Linked DNA regions of Homo sapiens: region 2 is linked to region 1. The links come from fine-mapping of genetic effects on gene expression. Tissue or cell type: whole blood. Region 1 holds a variant in brackets; the other region holds the start of a gene. All regions are shown on one strand. Distances are from middle to middle.

The links. PIP is the estimated chance that this variant, and not a neighbour inherited with it, causes the effect.
Region 2: it holds the start of GPM6A, and the variant in region 1 is fine-mapped to the expression of GPM6A in whole blood (INTERVAL, PIP above 0.99).

Annotation. Positions count from the first base shown.
Region 1 is chr4:176,008,608-176,011,371 of GRCh38, reverse strand. No RefSeq gene overlaps it. Among named protein-coding and RNA genes, the nearest start is that of WDR17, 56 kb to the left of the region's middle. The variant A/T (reference allele first, on the strand shown) is at 1,307.
Region 2 is chr4:175,811,162-175,813,793 of GRCh38, reverse strand. It overlaps GPM6A (glycoprotein M6A), which reads left to right and starts at 1,530. Exons shown (of 7, transcript NM_201591.3): 1 at 1,530-1,603. The coding sequence starts at 1,567. GPM6A-DT (GPM6A divergent transcript) reads right to left here. Exons shown (of 8, transcript NR_125901.1): 8 at 1,605-1,934.

The DNA of each region.
Region 1 (2,764 bases):
TTGGTTACCCTGCTCAAGGATCCATGGTTTCCTCTTGGTCCTTACTCGTATATAAATTATGAAAATTTATGCTTCATATTTATGGTATACATCGACTGTTTTCATTTATTCCCTTCAGCAATTTTCATAGTTGCAGCTAACATTTTTATAACTGTTTAAAATTTTCAGCCTTTCTAATGCATTATCTTATTTAAATTGGACTTTGACATTTTTTTCTTTCTTTGCAATCCATATAATCACTGTGGTGTACTGTAGTATCCTTATTAATAATTCTTCCAGCACCTGTCTTCAAAGACTTGCCTCAATAGCAGGAACTGTCACTTCTGCTGAACTTTACAAACCTAATCTTTAGTCTTTCCCTGGATCTCTCTGCACTCCAAATTTCTCAGCCTCTGAAATATTAAGGTCTAATACAGCAATAGCTGAACAACAACTTCTGTCTATCCCCATCTTTCAAGCTTTATTTACGCCAAATCTGCTCTTAAACTTCCTTTATCTTTTCAGTACTGTGTCCCCTTCTTCTCTCACAGTCCATAGCTACTGTCCTGGGGTCTTCTTTCTTCCTGTTCTAATTTAGACCCAAGATGAATTAACTCATTTTGTAGTTTTTGCCATCAGCCTTACCTCCTTCTTCTTCCTACCGCTCTACCATTACACTCACAAATGCTCTCAGTTTTCTTTAAATTCAGCTTTCTGTTTTATCCTCTCCTATAGTCAAGTTATAGATTGGTGTCTCTATAAATTTAGATTCAGTCTCTGCTTGGACTTCAATGTTACTTGATGTTTCTTTATTATACCGTGGTCACCTCCCTCTCCTCTTCACTACAGCAGCTGTAACAAACTTCATTAATTTTCTTAAGTGGAGCTGCAGCCCCAATTTGTTCTCTCTCAGCACATCTCCTTCCTAGTACATACCTACGGAATACTGAGGTTATCAGGCCTCCATGAGGTCCTGAGGTTATCAGCCCTCTGCTCCAAAGCTCCATACTGAAATAAAAATCTTTCTTCTTTTTTCTTTACACTCACTTTCTCTACTTCTTTTTCTATCTCAGAGGATTAGGCAATTTTGCCTGTTCTCTCTGGCTTATTCCTCCTCCTGTGTTCCAGATAGTATCTCTTCATTCTACTCTAAGAAGTAGATCTCTAAGATTGAAACCTATATATGCATTAACATATGAAACATACAGTTCTTTTTCTTTCATAAATAAACTTTCTCTGACACTTATTGCCCACTCTGCCTTCCTTCACTGTGAACTGTAAATAGGTTGTCCACACTCTTTTTCTACCACCCGTTTCCTTATTCTTT[A/T]TCTCTCTGCTCTTCACTTTTCCATAATACTCTTGCTACTGTTTCACCAGTGACTTCATAACCACCAATCCGAAGGGAACTTGCCAGTCCTCGTCTTCTTCGCTCTTTCTGTTTTATCTAGTTGACACTTCTTTCTTGTTGAAACGTTCTCTACAGGACTTTCTCTGGATTCTTTTCCTAGCCTAAGATTATTTTTTGCACTCCTCTGCATGAACTCCTTTTGTCCACAGTTATTAAATGTTTGTGTGTTCCCATTCTCCATTGTCAGTGTTCCTTTCCTCTTATTGAACATTCTCCCTCAGTGAATTAAAAATCATTGGCAATGTAGAAATGATATTTGGCTGGAACATAAAATGCTCATTCAATGACCCATAGTCACTCATGCCTAGATTAAATCCCAGTGCTTTTCAAGGTCATGTGACATGAGAAATCTTTGGTAAATAAAACTGGCTTAAAAACTGTTAGTAAAATACAATTAGAATGTCTTCAGAATTGTAGGTATTACATATAATTCACACATTTTTGCCTGGATCTATTGGACAGACAAATTTATACTGTCTCTTCTACATGTTTTTAAGGCCAAAAAATGGTTTCTTCTGTGATATATTTGATACTTGCTTAATTTGTCTGCGAGCTTATTTCTTTGGTTTTGAGTCTTTAGATTCTAGGGTTTAGACACTTGGTCACAGTGAGGGCTAGGGCACAGCACTTGAACCCCATCCTACCGGACCCAGCTGTGCCTCATGGCCATGCAGGGAGGAGTTGGATTCATTAGACATTGTCTGGAAAGGTCTTTCCTCCTTGAAAGAAGTTGGATTCACCAGGAATTGTCTTGAAAGGTCCTGGGCACTGTGTCTGGTATATAACAATTAAAATTGCTAACTTCTAAGGTTTTTCCCTGAAAATTAGGGTTACTAAGAGTTAACATTGTAATTAGTATATAAAATTAAAACTACCAGATGTGAGAAACATTTCTGTATGAAAAATGTATAAGGAAAGTTCAATGTGTTTTGGGTGGGGAAGGTTATAACAAAGGTGTGAGAATGTGGTTTTGTTAAAGAAAAGGTAAATTAATTTTTGTCTAGTTCAGAGGCCATATAAATGTTATTTAAAATTGAAGGGAAAAAATAATAGATAAAACTAAATGGATATAGAAAGTTGGGGAAAGAAAAAGAATGAAAAAATTTTTGTTATAAAAGTTTTATACAAATCTTATGTGGTCAAAACTGATTGAGATTAAATGGAACTATTTATAGTATTTTATTAAATTAGCTCTAACATTAACAATGCTGATGCAAAGATATATTTTAGTTTTCTCTTTTGAATATGATTTTCGTGTAGTATTGGCAAGAGATAGTATAATGGAAGATTTTTGTTCACCTTTTGAATAAACTGCAAAAAATAAGAAGTAGCAGGGAGAGTTTGACTCATGCTGTCTTTACTAGGTACTTTGATTGG
Region 2 (2,632 bases), 200 kb after region 1:
TGGAATGCAGTAATTGTGTTTCCTCTAAATAGCTGCTTTTGTAATATTTAGAGGGTGATGTGCAGCATGCTACTGGCCTGCTTTAAAGAATGCATGTGAAATACAAGCTATAATGCAAGAAACGTATGCTATGGATAATGAGGATGTGAGCTATTTTTCATTAAAGGCAGAGAGTTACAGTTATGTCTGTGTGTGTGTCCTTGTGTGTGTGTGTGCCTCTCCGTGTGTGTGCTTGTGTGTGTCTTTCTGTCCCTCTGTGTGTGTTTCTGTCCCTGTGTGTGTGTGTGCTGGCTGATTTGGAGATGAAGACAGAGGCAAGGATCCTTTCTTTCTACTCTAGGAAAGGTTTATGCTCCTTGAAAGAGATACTGTTTATTTTCTTGCTATACCTTTTGTGAAGTATTGAGACTCTTGGACTGTGCCCTGTCACTCAGTAGGCTGAAGTACAAATGCTAATTATCGCCAGACTGCAGCATTGTGATTTGCATTCCAAATCAGCTTGCAGATTCCCATTATAAATTGCTATCCTCTTGTTTCTTATCTAAAATTTGTTCCTCCCTTACATCACTCTTCTCATTCCCTAACACTGACCTTTAAAGAAATTCCCTTTCAAGAGATTCTCATTGGAAACCAGCAGCTTTCGTGGGCTATAATCATAACAATAAATAACAAAGACATCAATAGGGTTTTTCCTTCCAGTGGTTTTCTCCCTTTTACTTAAGAGTCATATGGCACTAAGTAAAATAATTACTTAAAACATGTATCTCTCAGGCTTAGAGCTTTATACTCACTCCTTTGACAGCCACGCTTCTATTTCTTTTTAAATCTCAAAGGTGTGGGATTACAAGTCCTGTCTTAGTAATAAACTTTTGCAGATAAACCCTGAGATGGTATAACTGCATCCTTTCTTGGCACCTTAAATCAAATTAACTAAATACTTAGTGAGGAGAGAAAAGGAAAACACAGTTTTTTTGCAACGTATCTGACTGGGTGAGAAGCCACTGCTGCAGCATAAAGAACCGACGGGAATCTGGGCTTTCCCACTCTGGAATGAAGGGGGGAATTACGGGTTGGTGGTCGGCTTCATGTTAGGAGGACACCCCTCCATCTGTTCACAGCTCAGCCTGTTTCCAATTTAAAGCCCAGATTTCAATACAAACCTCAATTTCTTTTCCCCATTTTAAATGCAAAGCAAGACTTGTGAATCATAGTGTCTCTGCTCCTGGGATTCAGACCAAATTTCCCCCCAAAATTCTCAGGCTATTTGTTTGAATACCTGCTTACAGTGGTACACAATGGGCAGCTTTGAGAAGAAAAATTGATAATCTTCACGGAAGAGTAATTTGAATGAAATTACACTTGACAGCCTGTCTCCAAGCAAACAAGAGGAACGAGGGAGCCTGAGCTAAGCTCTGAGGACTTGCCCAAGCCACTGCTGTTGGAGCTTCCCAGGAAAAAAAAAAAAAAAAAAAAAAAAAAAAAAAAAAAAAAACCCCCAGTTTTTCCAACATCTAATTGAGCTTTTGATTAATTCCGTGTACCAGATTCTACTGAAGAAAGGTAGCCATGGAAGAGAATATGGAAGAGGGACAGACACAAAAAGGTACTGTGCTAAAAGCGTTTATTTGTAACTAAGTAATTATTTTGCAGTTTCCTTGTTTGCTTTAGACACTTGCCAGTAAGGCTAATGAATGTTTCTCTCTTGGAAGGCATTTTGTTCCTTCCTCTCCTTTAGTCTGTTCCTCACTTGCAGTAATGTCTGGCACGAATGTTGTCATTATTTGCAAATCTTTCAGATATAAGTACCGAAATGCAGAGTCGAGTATTAGTGAGAAGAGCATTGCGGTATTGTAGTGAACTATTCCTTAGACCAGTCTTTGTTAACCTTCATTTATTTCGTGATTTCACACTTGCCGAGCTGGGTCAAGGGATCCCTAGTGTGAGCCACAAATACAATATTTGGAGTTAGTTAAAAATTTGGTGATGGAACCATTATCCATATCTTTGCATGGACATCTGATAGAACAAAGACCAAGACCATTAATTATCTTTTGATTGGTGCACCTTTTTAAAACAATCTTTAAAAAATAAAAACTAAAAACGAGGATGCAATATAGGTTTAAGCAGATGGAGCAAAAGTTCATAAATTTTCAGGGTGTATGGAAGCGTTAAGATTTTCCTTTCTATATAGTTGACTGTAATCAACTTCTGAGTAATAATGTTAAAGGAAATTTTTTTATGTGTTTTTAAAGCTTGTCTAGGTATATCTGGCTGTATGAGTTAAAGTGAAATTTCCATTTTTGAAGGTTGAAATGGTCAAATATTGGTAATTTGGAATGATTCAATCAACTCGAGAATTGTTTTAACGTGTCAAATGGTAGCTTCAGAGGGAGCTAGCTTTCACCCCAGATAGGCAGCGTTTCTCTCGTCTGCTGTCGGGCTTATGTAATGTCAGAGAAAATGGTCTCATTTTCTTAGTACTGAAGCAGTAACACAGGTAATACTACATAAAGGTAATATTCAAGAGTAGTGTTGAAAAAGATTCAGCTGTCAAAGTTAATTTCAAATGTATATAAAGGCACTTATCGTAAAAAACTGTATTTTATGTGATAAAATATATAGGGTGGAAGCA